Linked DNA regions of Homo sapiens: regions 1 and 2 are each linked to region 3. Evidence: fine-mapped expression QTL. A gene starts in region 3. Each other region holds a variant in brackets. All regions are shown on one strand. Distances are from middle to middle.

Region 1 (5,225 bases), 38 kb after region 3:
CCTAACCTCCTGGGAATGCCACCTAGCAGGTCTCAGCCTCATTTTACCAGCCCCTATTCAAGATGGAGTCATTCTGGTTCGAATGCCTCTGCCATAGACACGTATTATATATGCATTACCATGCTTATGTTTTTTGCTTTCCCTGTCTGTAAAATGAGGAAATGCTATTAACTGTTATGTTGGTCACTCTGTACCAGAAAAGCCAGGAAGAGTGTCCACTGTGTGCCAGACCCTTGTAGGTGACGCTGTGAGGAGACGCAGAAGAACGGAAAGACCTGGCTCCTTCCTATGTACTCTGAGATCTCTATGAGGAGGCTTCCCCCTTCCCCTCTAGGAAGACTCCTCATAGAGATCTCAGAGTACATACGAAGGGGAAACATCCACACCCAGTTTTCCCTGGTGGAAAGGTGTGACACAGAGGCCTGCCAGAGGCTCATGGCCCCTTCTCCACCCAGAGCAGCATCTCAGCTCAACCTGGGGATCCAGTAAAGCGGTGCAGGGATCCTGCAGGCTCTGGCAAACTCAGCCTTGACCTTTGGATCCAGCTCTCTGTCCCCATGGCCAGTCTTTTCACTCCCAGGCCTTCTGTCTGGCACAGGGTGTGAAAGAGGAGCCGGGGGCAGGGCGGGGAGGATGCGGCAGGGACAGGGACAGGACAGGAAGGACTTGGCCTAGCTGATTGAGACTTTTTTTTTCTTTTTGAGACGGAGTCTCGCTCTATCGCTCAGGCTGGAGTGCAGTGGCCCAATTTCAGCTCACTGCAACCTCCACTTCCCGGGTTCTCCTGCCTCAGGCACGCAAGTAGCTGGGATTACAGGCATGCACCACTGTGCCCAGGGATTACAGGCATGCGCCACTGTGCCCAGCTCCAGTTGAGATTTTGGCAGGGGTCTCTTGAGCAGCTGATGGGCTCCTGTCACTGCGCCCAAAGTCTGTCCCAGGCGAGTCTGGTTCCACTTAAGCCCAGGTCTGGGCACAGAGGTGCCACCCTTAATGTGTGTGCAGTATGCTGCAGCTGTACCCACGAAGTCTGCCCCTGCCTCTCATGAACACCCAACCCATTCGAGGCTCCAATAATTAGAATTTTCCTTGCTTCACTTTATCCATCTAAATCCTATCGAACTTGTCAAGGGCTACGTCAGTCTCACCTCCTCCATGAAGCCTTCTCTGATTGCCCAGCTGACATCAGTCTTACTGTCCTAAGTTTCCTAGTTCTCTATTTCATTCATTTAGAAATTAGAAAGTAGAAATGTACTTAATTATATTCTCAAAAAATATTTGAGCACCTGTTTGATTGCAAGGCAGGGAGGGTGGCTGTTGGGGCATCCATGAAAATACAGGACAGAATCTTCTAACAAGAAGCTTCAATTCTAAAAGGATGATAAAAATTCTAAAGGCATGGCCTAGAAAATTCCTTATTGCCATATATTGCTTTTCAGGTTGGATGCTATGATTTAATTCAAAAATAATAGTTAACAGTTATTAGGTGCTTGCTATGGGCCATTACTGTATTTAGCACTTTACACAAATTATTCTATTGAATTTTTTTTTGAGATGGGGTCTGGCTCTGTCACCCAGGCCGGTGTTCAGTGGTACAATCATAGCTCACTGCAACCTCGAACTCCTAGGCTCAGACAACCTTTCCGTCTCAGCCTTTTGAGTAGCTGTAACTGCAGGCATGTCTTACCACACCTGCGTACTCTTTTAATTTTTGTAGAGACAGGATCTCACTATGCTGCCCGGGCTGGTCTTGAACTCCTGGGCTCAAGCAATCCTCCCGCCTCAACCTCTCAAAGTGCTGGGATTATAGGCGCAAGCTACAGCACCAAGCTAAGTTATTTTATTTAACTCTTAATAGTACCCCATTTGGTAGATACTATTATTATTATTATTCCTACTTTAGAGATAAGGAAACTAAGGTGCAGAAAGGTTGACTGCCTCGTGTCAGCTAGTGAGAAAGCCAGGATTTGAACCAGGCACCCTGACTCCATTGTTTATACCCTTAACTACAGTGCCATATTTCTTCTGTGTTTCACCTTTTATGTTCAGCTAGAGTGAAACTCTTTTAAGTCCTGGAGGGCCCTGTGGCACTTAGTGCATCAATGCCTTTGTAGGTAGCAGGCACTGGTAGGAGGCAGTCAGTATTCAGGGATGCCTTGATGATCAGGCCCTGCGGTAGAGAGAAGAAGAGAATGTCCAAAGTTTCTTAGTTCTGGGCAATAGAATTGGGAAAAGCAACCAGGAGTCCAGCGCCTAAATATTGCTGTATACTAACTCTTAGCTCCCACTACCTCCTC[A/G]CTAACGCAGCTCTTTTTTCAGGCCTACACCAAGGTTCCCGTGAATGTAGCCAGCAGATATTAGGAGGGCTTCTTATGAATCCCTCATCACTGGGTGGACACAGGCCCATTAGGAACAGGCCCAGAGGCCTAGTGACTTCAGATTAATGCTTGCCAGGACCAGTGAGGTCAAAACATTACCCAGAACTGGGGCTTGATGTCCTGTCTCAAGGACAAACTCATCCCATCCTATCTGCCAAGTTATAGTGATTGTACTTCTGAGAACAGGGAACACTTCAGGCAAGAAAAATGTCAGTCCTCATTCAAAGGGAATGATTCTCCTAAATTTAATGAAACTCTTACAGCCTAATCCCTCACCGATCATGATATCTGTTTATTTCATATTCATTGATCATCTACTTGGTACAAGAAGCTGTGGCTTCCTACCCATAAAGGAGGTGATTCCAGTTTTAGACACACGTATCTACAAGATGAGTCATAGGATAATGATTATCCTATCAACCATTTATTAAAAATTGCTTATCCGTTCCCTCTATGCTAATAAGTGTTTTGATAGACTCTATCTCATTTAATCTTTAAAACAAATCTGGATATAATTATTCCACATGGTGGACCAAGCTCTGAGAAGGTACTTTATAGTAGACTCTGCCCCTAACAACTATATTGTCTTTCTGTACCGTCCATGAGAGGTCCAGACAGTGAGGACCATAGAGAACGGAGGCCAAGGTCCCTTTTGGCTTAGTTGACCAGAAGTAGCTTGCTGGAAAAGGCTCCTGTAGATGTTCCCTCTTCTAATACCCCTACCCAATGCTTTCTTTTTCTTCAACGTAGCCTCCAGAGAACTCCCAAATTAATTTTTCTAGGATACAGCTATGATCACCATGAACTCTACTCAAAAACCTTCAGTGATTCCCCTGAAATTCCCAAACTACTCTTCAGCCTGAAATGCAAGGTCTCGACTTCACCTTGGCTTTCTGACCTTCTCTCTGTCTACTCCCTCTCCCTATGTTCTTGCCAAATAGAACTATTTGCTAGTCTGCATGTAGGTCCACCTGCTGCTTCCAAGGCTCTTGGCATACCATTCCTACCACCTAGATGCCTTTTCCTCATCTTTGTCTCTCCAACTCTTACCCATCCTTCAGAGTCCAGCTTAAATATCACTTGCTAATGATAGTTACTAAGCTAGGGCAAATATATCTATATATCTATATATATATCTTTTTTTTTTTTTTTTTTGAGATGAAGTCTCTCTCTTGTTGCCCAGGCAGGAGTGCAGTGGCACGATCACTGCAACCTCCACCTCCCAGGTTCAAGCAATTCTCATTACTCAGCCTCCCAAGTAGCCGGGATTATAGGTGCTCACGACCATGCCAGGATGATATTTGTATTTTTAGTAAAGACGGGGTTTCACCATGTTGGCCAGGCTGGTCTCGAACTCCTTACCTCAGGTGATCCACCCACCTCGGCCTCCCAAAGTGCTGGGATTACAGGCGTGAGCCACCGCGCCCAGCCATCTTTTTTTTTTTTTTTGAGATGGAGTCTCACTCTGTCTCCCAGGTTGGAGTGCAGTGGCGCAATCTCGGCTCACTGCAACCTCCATCTCCTGGGTTCAAGCAATTCTCCTGCCTCAGCCTCCCAAGTTGCTGAGATTACAGGCACATGCCACCACGCCTGGCTAATTGTTTGTATTTTTAGTAGAGACAGGGTTTCACCATGTTGGCCAGGCTGGTCTTGAACTGCTGACCTCAGGTCATCTACCTCCTCTGCTTCCCAAAGTGCTGGGATTACAAGTGTGAGCCACTGTGCCCGGCCATATATATTTTTTATACCATGTGTTGTGGCTTATTTGTATGTCATTTCCTCTACTAGACGGCAAGCTCCTTGAAAGTGAATCCAGATCTCATTCATTCATACATTTTCCCGTATTCCAGTATCCTGGTATATCTTTGTATTTTTCTGTATCCCCATACACTAGTATCCTAACCCAGTTAGAGCTCCATAAATATCTATTGGATAAATTGATTTTTAAAATCAAAGAATAAAATACATAAGCAGAAGGATTGGCCTTCCCTGCCAATCTTCCTTTGAAGTGCTCATACCTTTACACATAGGTTTGGAGTCCTACAAAGCTCAGATAGGATTGAACCCAGTGGGGTAACATTGTAGAGAACAATGAGTCATTTGCATAGTAGGTTGTAGAGTAAGAGGATGGGACGTAGAGTTCAGGGTGAGGGTAGAGGAAGGGCTGTAATAGCAATGAATTTCATTCTTTGTTTTTTGTTTTTGTTTTTGTTTTTGTTTTTGAGACAGAGTCTCGCTCTGTCACCAAGGCTGGAATGCAGTGGTGTGATCACAGCTCACTGCAGCCTTGACCTCCTGAGCTCAAGCGATCCTCCTACCTCTGCCTTCTGAGCAGCTGGGACTACAGGCGTGTGCACAACCACACCTAGCTACTTTTAAAATTTTTTGTAGAGACAGGGTCTCACTGTGTTGCCCAGTCTGGTCTTGAACTCCTGGGCTCAAGCGATCCTTCTGCCTCAGCCTCCCAGAGTACTGGGATTGCAGGCATGAGCCACCATGCCCAGCCTCACTCTTTGAAATATTGCCCAACATCCTGGTATTTGAATTCACCTCCCTTGCCTGGTGCAAATTGTGGCACCTCAGCCAAACCTAGCAGCCTGGTCTGTCACTAATAAACCCCAGATCCCTTCCTAGCCTGTCGCCTCTCACTCATCCCAGGGTACATGCTGGTTGCAAACTAAGCCCAAGAGTGGATTTGGACGCAAGTTGGTAAATAACAACTAGGCTTTTAGATTCGGAGTTTGGATGATGAGAAAAGTGAAGTTTTGAGTGGGTGGGAAGAAACCTTCCCTGATTTTGGCTGGTACATTCAGAGACTCACAGCACTAACAGACAGGGCAGGCTGCC
Region 2 (5,225 bases), 76 kb after region 3:
CTTCCATCATGGTCCTGCTAAAATGCTGCTACAGCACATTGGGAGGCTGAGGCAGGAGGACCACTTGTTTGGGACCAGGATTCCAGACCAGCCTGTGCAATATAGCAAGACACCGTCTCTACAGAAAATAACGAAAATAAAAAATAAGACGCTGCTCTAAGGATGCCACTGGCTGCGGATAACCTTCCTACTGCTCCCTGCTGCCCTCAGGACAAAGCCTAAGTGCCTCATCAGCCCCTCCCTGATCCGCTGCCCCACACCGCTCCACCTCTGCCTTCCACCTGTACCCTAGGACCCCTTGGGTCCTGACAGGGAGACCCCGCCCTCTCTGAGACGGCTGCCACAGCAGCCCATCTGCCTCACCCCACGGAGGAAAACTGAGTCCAGGAGACAATCCCCCCCTAAATTTACCAACTGTTTCCCCCCTTCCAGAAGTTTCTTGAGAGCAGGAGCCATATGGATTCGTCTCTGCATGCCCAGCCTGAGACATCAGTGCCTAGGACTCAGGAGGCATACCCAGCACATGCTTGTAGAAGAAAGAAAGAAACAGGGAAGGTGTTTTTTGCTATTTATCGCATATTTAATTTCATCTTTATTATATTTTTCCTGATTGTAACAGGATGATGTCTTAGGTGTGAAAAATTAGAAGTGGAAGTGTTAGAGCTCTTCTAGAATTTGTCTAGCAGGTTCTCTGGTTTTTACTGAAACCAAACTCCCATGAGAAAACAACCTACAATTGGGAAAATACATAACTTAGAAAGAAAGGGAAAGTCTTTAGTGTGATAGAAATTCCTCCCATATCTGTTTCCTGTGCTTATTCTAATGCATTGAAATATAAAGTAGATCCTCTGAATACTTTGTTTCATTTTTACCAATATAGAATCATATCATGTTCTTACTGACTTGCTCCCCACTAAATACATTTTAGATATCTTCTGTATCTAATCATAGGGATCTACCTCATTCTTTTTGTTTTGTTTCATTTTGTCCATTGTTTTTTACTGATTGAACAAGAACACCTCTCTCTTTTCAAAGACACATGTAGTATTTAATTGTGTGGTTGTAGGCCAGCTTATTTAGCCCACACACCCTTGATTACAATTTGGCTCATTCCCAGTTTTTGACATTATCAATAATGATGCATGGAATAGCTTGTCTTTTTGAGCTTTGGGGAGCATTTTCTGTGGGAGACTTATTCTGTGGGAGACTCCTAGAAGTGGACTTACTAGGTAAGACTATTTTAAATTTTAATAGATAATTGTCAGATTGTCCTCCAAAAAAAAATGATTGTAACAATTCTGGTACGTTTGGTAGTAATTTACATTTCTACCAAGGACGTGAAAGTGCTTGCTTAGCCATGTCTTCACCAACACTGAGTATTATCAGTCTCTTAAGTCTTCGCCAATCATGTAGGCTATCATATCTATTACACAGATTTGTGATGTTTCTTCAGGGGCTTGCTTGTTTGTACTCAGTTTTTCTGTTGGCTCATTTTTAAGGCCTCCACAGACTTCAGGATAATCAGTCCTTTGTGCTCTGTGCAGCAGTGTTCCCCCCGTTTCTCTTTGTCTCCTGATTTTGTGTGGTGTGTGGTGGTCGAGGAAATGGCTGGAGCACACACTCTGAAGGCAGGCTACTGGGTTTTGTCTGTAACTTACTGGCTGAATGACCATAGTTTAGTTACTTAACCTCAGAGTCCCTTAGATAAGGACAGTACTTATCCCAGGGATTGTTATGAGAATGACACGACTTCAGATATATAAAGTGTTCTGTGCAGGGTTTGACATGAAATGAGCGCTATAAGTGTATATGCTATTATTATTTTGCATTCAAATAATTTTAATTTTATGCAGTCAAATGTATTAATCCTTTATGGCTTCCGGATTTGATGTCATAGTTATAAAGGTTTTCCTCATTCTAAGATTAGAAAGAGATTCACAAAGGGGACTATTTGAAGGAGTCTGCGGGGAGTCCATTTGCAAGATGTCTCCTCCTCCCTTCCCTCCCTTCTGTCCCTTCCGTCCCCTCCGTCCCTTCCGTCCCCTCCGTCCCTTCCGTCCCTTCCGTCCCTTCCGTCCCTTCCCTTCCTTCCGCCATTTTGCTGTCTTGTAAATTGATTTGGCTTTTCACATAGTGGGAATTTTTTTCAAGGGGAAACCTATCTGTGTTTACATAGTGGAAGGATGATACACTGGTCTGGGGACTATGTTGGCTGTCGTGTCATGCCTAAAGTGTAGGCCTGTGTAGGTCGTCCCCTCCCTTCATGGATAAAACAACTACTAGTT[A/G]TCAGTAAGTGCCAGCCTCATACTACGGCTCCTACCCTGAAGGAGTTCACCGTCCAGTGAGAGAACGGATAGTGATCAGGTGAGAGGTGTCACCAAGGCCCTGTGGTGGAAATAACCAGCTTAATGGAAGGAAGAGCTTCCTGGGTGGACGGCGAGGAAGGGCCCAGAGGGCATTTCAAACACGGGGGATGGGGTGTTCAATCTGCTCTACAGATCCTGGTGACCTGCCTGTGAGGCGCAGGGTCCCTGGCCACCCCCACCCCCCACCTGCACAGAGGCCCCGGGGCAGGGAAGAATGGCTCAGCGCTGGGCAGGGTGAGATGGAGAGTGGTCAGAGGCCAGACCACAAGCATCGGGCCAAGACTAGGAAAGCCCAGCTCCCCTCCCAGCTGTAGAACTTCACTGGTCAGAGAGCCTGAGGAGCCCTAAGAAAGGGACTTCAGTCCTCTGGGGCTCCCTTTGCGTGTCCTTACAATGCAGCCTCAGCTTCTGTCCTTAGGCAGCTGTGCAAATTCTGTAAGATGGTGCATGTGCAGACATTCTGTCCTGCACAATAAAAGTGGACACCTTTGGGGCACTTCCTGCCGCCGCTTGACCGGGAGTTGCTCCCGCCATGGGGGCTGTGCTGTGGGTTCAGCCTGTCTGCATTGCCAGGGGTTCCTGGGCCTGCTTCCTGTGGAGGGGCAGCTTCACCCTGGATGCAGACCTCCCCGTTTGCAGCCCGTCCTGGTGAGCTGACTCTTGCCTCCTGGTCCCCTAGTCTTTTTGTTGACCCAGATCAGGACTCTAGTCCAATACTATTGAACCCTGGCAGAGATGCTCCACAGGAAGGGCTGAGCCTCCTCCTCCCACAGGTGTTTAGTAGCAAGAAAAGAAACTGTGCTTGGGGAGCCTACGCTTTCCCTTTGGCCTTGTTTATCCCAGATATTGGTATGAACCCCTCTTGGCACTGGCAGGGGTTCTACCATCTGCTCACACTAAGGGTTAAAGGCCTGCAGAGGGGACAGTGAGCTCTTCCATCCAAACTTCAACTCCATTCCACAATACCAGAGCCCAGTGAATGGCGTCCCCCGTGGGCAACAGTGATTCTCATGGGAGCAGGGCCCCGAAGGTGAAGGTCACTGCAGAGGGATCCCCACACCTGGATCCCTACGATCCAGTCAGAGGGCACAGAAAGGCACCTGGCTGTTGGGGAAAGGACCCTGGTGGGAGTCACAGAAGCCTTTGTCCCAGTTTCAGCACTGCCCAGTTCTGTTGCCTTGGAGAGGTCCCTTGCCCCGATGGTTCTGTGTCCTGATTTGTAAAACGGGAAGGTTGGACATAGGGCCGAAACGCATGCCCTGTGGGCGGATGGGAGCTTATGCACTTTGAGGTTGGATGCCTTTGAGTGGGCGTGCGCTGCCCAGGGAGAAGCAGCTCCCACCCCTTCCTCCAGTGAAGGCGTTGGCCTTTGTATTTTGCGCTGTTCCCTGGTCCTGGCTTTTGAGAAAAGAGCCAGCAGCCTCTGGTCTTGTTGACACCATCATCTGAGAGTGGCAGGCCACCAGAGGGAAGGGCTAAGGACAGAGCCAGATCTGGCTGGGCCATCTCACCTTCTGGAGGCCGAACTTGACCCGGGATGGAAATAATGAAGCAGCCACTGGCTTTCCCAAGGCCTGTGATCCTCCTGGTCACCAGAAATCCCAAGTTCTTATCTCCTGCTCTTCCAGGTAGGCTGGGCCAGCTTCCCAGGATCTGCTCAGGAGGGCCCTGTGCTGAGAAGGGTCCTGCATTTGGTCTAATTCTCTGCTTTTGCCATCTTGAAATTCCGAGTCTTTTTTTCTTTTTTCCTGTTTTAGACTTCATTCCTGAGGCTCACCCTTAATCAACTTGAACGAGGGGCCCCATATGTTCCTTTTTACTGGGCCATGCAAATTACTGTGGGTTACATTAATGCTCATCTGGAAACCTTTTACCAGTCTCCTCTGTTAGGGTACTGGTTCCCAGCGCAGAGCTTCTGTGATTACCAGAAGAACACTGAAGGAGTCTTCTTGTCTGTCTGGAGCCAGCTGAGATGGCCCTGAGATCCACAGAGCCTCCTCCACGCCCCTGGATGGAGGCGCTCCTGCTCTTCCACCCTTTGTATCTCTCACTTGGCACCCATTCCCGTAATTAATCACAAACTCCGTCTGAGCTATTCCTTTCTAAGCCATGCCCTCTGTACTCTGACTTGCCCCAAATAGACAGATGCTCAATAAATATTTGCTGATTGGCTGGAAAGCAAACAGAGCTATCATCTCAGCACAGAGTTCAGGACATTGCACACAGTGGGTGCTTAATCGATGCTGCTGACTCATCCGCAGAGCAGGCCAGGGTGCAACACAGCGTGACCGTGCCTGTGCTCAGCCTCCCTTCCCTCCAACCGTTCCCTTCCCTTCCCTCCAACCGTTCCCTTCCCTTCCCTCCAACCGTTCCCTTCCCTTCCCTCCAACCGTTCCCTTCCTCCAACCGTTGCCTGCCTGATGAGGATAGGACTGACACTGAAATCCTGGGTGGTGCTGTTGAATCGTGGGGCTTCCTGGTGTGGGATTGTCCCCGGCGAACCTACTCTTTCCCTTTGGCCTCGTTTATTCCGGAAGTTGGTATGGACCCCTCTTGGCATGGGCAGTTCTACCATCTGCTCACGCTAAGGGTTAAGAGCTTGCAGCAGGGAAGCCCAGAGCCCCCAGAGCCCAGTGAATGGCGGGGAGAGAACCGCTGGCGGCAGGTGAAGGTCACTGCAGAGACAGCCTCCATTTCATGGCGGTGGAAATGCAGCCTTAGCGAAAAGAAGGATTTGCTTTTATTTATGTGTTTATTGAGACGGAGTCTCGCTCTGTCTCCCAGGCTGGAGCGCAGTGGCGCGATCTCAGCCCACTTCAACCTCCGCCTCCCCGGTTCAAGTGATTCTCCTGCCTCAGC
Region 3 (5,225 bases):
CTTTTCAAACCAATGTGCTTATTAATAGGAAATTTTTTGAAATATATTCGAGTACTTTTCTCTTTTGCATTTTTTTGTTCCTGTTTCCCTCTATTCAGCCAGATGTATCCATATTATTTAAAAGATAATGAGGATTTTCACAACAGGAGTGCAAAGAGAAATAAATAGTTAATATTTTGCTTCTGGCATCCGAAATAAGGTTTTCCAGAAAGTTTTTTTTTTTTTTTAAGACATGGTCTTGCTTTGTCAACTCAGGCTGGAGTACAGTGTCATGATCATAGCTCACTGCAGCCTTCAGCTCCCAGGCTCAAGCAATCCTCCCACCTCAGCCTCCCAAGTACCTGGGACTACAGGTGCTGCAAGCTGCCACATCTAGCTAAATTAAAAAAAAATTTTTTTTTTGTAGAGACAGGATCTCACTGTGTTTCCCAGGCTGGTCTTGAACCCCTGGGCTCAAGTGACCTCCTGCCTCTACTTCCCACAATGCTGGGATTACAGGTGTGAGCCACCATGTCCAGCCAAAAAGTTCTTCTACAGATGGGATCTCACTATGTTGCTCAAGCTGGTCTTGAACTCCTGGGCTCAAGAGATCCTCCGGCTTTGGCCTCCCGAAGTGCTGGGATCACAGGTATGAGCCATGCTGCCCAGCCAAGACAATATTTTTGACAACCAGGTTTTCTTGAGAGAGAGGATTTTCTAAATTTCTTCATTTCCCTTTGAATTGTTGTCATAGAGTTCTACATCAGATACATCCCAGCCAAACAGGAAAAAAAAAAAAAAAAAGAAGACAAAGCGTACATTTTCTGATTCTAGATTAAGGGGACTATGGGAAGAAGTAATCTCAGCTACTCGGGAGGCTGAGGCAGGAGAATCGTTTGAACCCAGGAGGCAGAAGTTGCAGTGAGCCGAGATGGCGCCACTGCACTCCAGCTTGTGCAACAGAGCGAGACTCCATCTCAAAAAAAAAAAAGTGCTTAGAATAGTGCTTGATACATAGTGGTATTATTATGAGCGGTGGGGTGATAGATATTACTGGTAGACTTTTTAAGGAGTGCTGAGAAGAGTGGGTTCCAGGTCTCATTTCCATTCAGGAATGTGGAAGGAGATCACCTCGCAGACTGCCCTGTGTCAGTTGGAGCAGCCACATCAGAGCAAACTCTGCTGGAAGTGGGGCTGAGCTTGCCTTTCCCCTGCCCTTCGTCAGCAGCCCTCAGTCCCCATGTGCCTAAGGGGGCTCAGGAGCACTGGTCAAGCATCTCACAGGAAAATTTCGAGGGGCTTATCTTAGAGATGTGGGCCACTGAGCGGATACAGTGGGATGGGGGCACATACAAGTCAAAGCCAGGTCTCAGGATGGTCCACATTGCCACGAGCCAAGGTAGCGCAGACAGCAAGGGAGAACACTGGATCTCAAAGGCAGAAAGAGAATCACCCATGAGTGACTCTGGCCTAATATCAGACATCAGCCACCAAGGCCAGCAGAAGACCCAGGAGCAGGACCTGTGTCTCCTCAGCAGTCAGCAATTCGGGCGGGCCCGTGGGCCCAGCAGCTCCAGAACAGAAAGGAGCCGAGATGGAGAGGCCACAGGATAGATGCAAGAACCGTCCCCACCCCGCCCTCCTGTGCACCTAGGTGCCATCTTCTGCAAATCCGAAAGACTGAGCATTGTGTCTAAAGTGGACTGTTTACCATTTAAATGATTAAATCCAACTATGCTTCATAGATTAGACTAAAATATGGCCCCCATCCAATCATCCAACCCTCCCTCGCACCACTGTCCAGAGGGATGGGAACTTATAAAGGCATTTCATAGAACTGAAGAAATCGCCTTTTTTTTTTTTTACATTTGAATGTGGTGAGGGTAAACGTGTTGACTCTGCCTGTCTTCCTCCTGCCCGCACCTCTTCAAGCCCTGAATTGGATTACAGGTTAACACCCTGCCATGCACGTCTACAGACATACCCACACCCACACCTGCACAAGCTTGTGTCTAAACCTTGCTTCAGGAACAAGCCAGAAGAGTTTTGGGCTCTAAGGTAAACAGGAGAGGAAAAAAAAAACTTTCTAAAAAAAGACTCCCTCCTGGTAATTTTATTTTAAAAGTAGGGAGAATACCACTGTTTGCATAAACAAGCTTCGAAGGTACAACTACTCCCTGCTCCCTCTATGGCTAATCAAGGGAGGAGTTGAAGGAATCAAACAATCCGTCAGTAAAAACGTATTGTTCACTCACTTTGCAGAACAAAGCCTATGCTTTGGAGCCTATTAGGTAAACTACAATTTTTTTAAAAACTTTTAGGGATATAGGGAACAAAGCAAAGAACAACGGAAATCCCTCTGCCTCAGTATTGAGACTGTGCTGGAGGTCACTCCACCCGTGGCGACTGGGGACTGGACCCAGCGGTGAAGTCAGATAGCGTTGTCCTCAGGCTGTTTTTCAATTTGCTTGATAAACATGCAGGATTTCTTTGCCAGTCATAAAGCTACTAGCTCAAAGCAGGCTGGGTGACCTCAGATGGCTCCGCTGGGACTGGAAGGTCACTGGAGCCACTGGTGAAAATGATGCTGTCACTACCAACTCAAAAGGTCACCTATCAGTGTGCCATGTGCCACCTCCTGGAGCACACACATGTGCACACACATACACTCACACGTGTGTGCAGGTGCACACCTCCCCCAGAGGCTGCAGCCAAGACGGGCATCCCACATCAGAGGGATGAATGGCAGGTCTGTCCCGCCAGCTGTGTGCTCTCTCCCACCCGAAGAAAGCAGCAGAGACTCAGACGGCGGAGCCTGGAGGAGCCCACGCAGTCTGTTCCCGGCACCCGGTGCGTGTGAAGGGACTTGAGGGCAGCGAGATGGAATCAGCAAGAGAAAACATCGACCTTCAAGTAAGTTCTCTCTGGAAGAGAGCAGAGGGGAGACCGGGAGTAGAGGTGAAGCTGGAAGAACAGAGGATTGATACTTTAGTCACTTGATATTCTCCCTCCCCGTTCTCTTCTTACTCACTCCCTTCTCCAAATGCTCCCTAGGCTTTGTCTCTTTATTTTCTCTTTCTCTCTGTTTCCCTATCTGGTTCTTCACTTGTTTTGAAATATCTGAAAAACAGATTGGTTAACTCCCTTTTGGCCTCTGCTTCCTCTTGTCAGTCAAAGAGCTAATTAGATCCGTATTACCAGAAAATGATTTCACATTCTGAGCAGTGCTTTCCCCAAACCCCAGGACAGTAGAGACTTCTCTTAGAGCTGCCGGGGAGACAGGAAATATATGAGTTTTGAGGCTAGGAAGAGAGGCAGCTGGCCAACTTTGCATTTTACAGGTTGGAAAAAACTTGAGCCGTTTCTCGGCTGTCTTCACAAAGCTCTACTGTGTAGGACAGAAAGCGTCTCATTTGGACAGTGCAAGGAAAGGAAATCAGTCTAATCTCCTAGGAAGAGGCAGAGATGTGTGTCCCTCTGTAGCTGGGATGGGCTTGGAAGGCATCAGAGGTTCCAGTCCACTGCTGGAGGGGAAAGGGTGGGATGTTACGGTGAGAGGAGAGCCAGATTGCTGGGAGCTGCACTCTGTGACTCCTTGCCAATGGATAGAATAGAACGAACCCTTCTATGACCACTGCTGAGGCTGTGTAACATTGCAGAGAATCAAACAAAGTGTGGAAAAGGACTTTTGAGATCAAGAATTTCTGATCCCTGAACCTGGTCCTCGAACAAAATCTTAAGCAGCCACCCAATATACACTTCGGATTAAAGAAGAGCTGTTTTGTTGAAGCAGAGTATGTGCACGCGTCTCTCTCTCTCTCTCTCTCTCTCGTTCTCTGTGTGTGTTTTGGGCAGGGTGGCGTGAGTCTGGCAGAGTCTCTGTCCTTGGCCCCTCCGCCCTTGAGACACCACCAGGGAACTGTAGGACTGCTTGGTGTGCTGTGTCAAAACCATTCACCTAGTACAACTGCATACCCAGTGCTGTTTTCCTGGATTGGCAGCCAGCCCCGAGAGCGGTCCCACCGCAAGGCTTGCTTGTCCCTCTGTCTGGAACCTTCTTTCCCTGGCTTATCTCCTGGCTGGCCCTTCCTAGTACATTCAGGTCTCAGCTCAAATGTTACTTCCCCCAGGAGCCCTCCCCTGACCAACCTCTTCACAGGATGCCTCCTCCCCAATTTGTCTTTATCATTTGTTTAATTTCTTTCATAGCACTGCTCACCACCTAAAGTTACACTGCTTATTTATTTAGTATGTATTGCCTGTCACTCTCACTAGGACACAAGATCTCTGAGGGCAGGGCCTCTCCTGTTTTATTCACTGCTGCAGCCCGAGTGCATGAGGCAACTCTTGGTACACGGTCATTGCTTTAGAAAACATTTGTTAAATGAATGAGTTGAGGAAGCCATGAGTTGGAGAGGCTCTGAGATAGGAATAAGGTCACCTAATTGGCCCAAGACCTCCAGTCCATGTCTTCTGTCCCTAGTATGTGTTTTCTTCTTACTTCTAGTTCTTGCCTCTATAAGATCCTTGGTTGTTAAGGAAATTGTGTTGCTGCTTATTTTCATTCTCAGAAGAGCAAGTTTCTTATGTGCTGATGGGTTGAACGATCCAGAGTTACAGGCTAAGGACTCTGCATCTGAACCAGAGGTTCAGAAGGAAAGAGGTGGTGGGAGGAAGGAGAAGGAAATGACTGGCTAGGCTGGATGAATGTCTCTCTCTAGCAGGTAACTGAGGTGTTAGTGTACCTTTCTCTTCATTTGTCATTCACTCTCTTCTAATATGCTATTTAATTCTTGTATCTTACATTTTCCTTTGCTCAGAAGGTTATCCATTATTTTCTACAATTTATTGTCCACCTTTGGCTGGGCACGGTGGCCTACGCCTGTAATCCTAGCATTTTGGAGGCTGAGGCAGGAGGATCACTTGAGCTCAAGAGCTAGAGATCAGCCTGGGCAACATAGCAAGACCCTATCTCTATTAAAAATTTAAAAGTAATTAGCTAGGCATGGTGGCATGCACCTGTAGTCCCCACTACTCGGGAGGCTGAGGTGGGAGGATTGTTTGAAGCCAGGAGTTCAAGGTTGCAGTGAGCTACAATCATGCCATTGCACTCCAGCCTGGGCGGCAGAGCCAGACCCTATCTCTAAAAACAAAACAATAACACTCTTTAGTTAAAACAATGTTTCCCCAAAATGTGGTACAATTATCACCAATGGGTGGTAAAGGTACATCAATGGCTGACAGCT

Evidence for each region. PIP is the estimated chance that this variant, and not a neighbour inherited with it, causes the effect.
Region 1: its variant is fine-mapped to the expression of NINJ2 in whole blood (TOPMed, PIP 0.94).
Region 2: its variant is fine-mapped to the expression of NINJ2 in whole blood (INTERVAL, PIP 0.96).

The regions. Positions count from the first base shown.
Region 1 is chr12:623,411-628,635 of GRCh38, reverse strand. The region is part of intron 1 of NINJ2 (ninjurin 2); the gene reads left to right. Among named protein-coding and RNA genes, the nearest start is that of NINJ2-AS1, 4.9 kb to the left of the region's middle. RefSeq lists enhancers at 4,179-4,922, 4,923-5,225. The variant A/G (reference allele first, on the strand shown) is at 2,298.
Region 2 is chr12:585,017-590,241 of GRCh38, reverse strand. All of the region lies in intron 1 of NINJ2 (ninjurin 2), which reads left to right. LOC105369595 (a long non-coding RNA gene) reads left to right here and starts at 3,756. Exons shown (of 2, transcript NR_134624.1): 1 at 3,756-3,994; 2 at 4,244-4,544. It also overlaps the pseudogene RNU7-103P. The variant A/G (reference allele first, on the strand shown) is at 2,286.
Region 3 is chr12:660,995-666,219 of GRCh38, reverse strand. It overlaps NINJ2 (ninjurin 2), which reads left to right and starts at 2,775. Exons shown (of 4, transcript NM_016533.6): 1 at 2,775-2,892. The coding sequence starts at 2,860.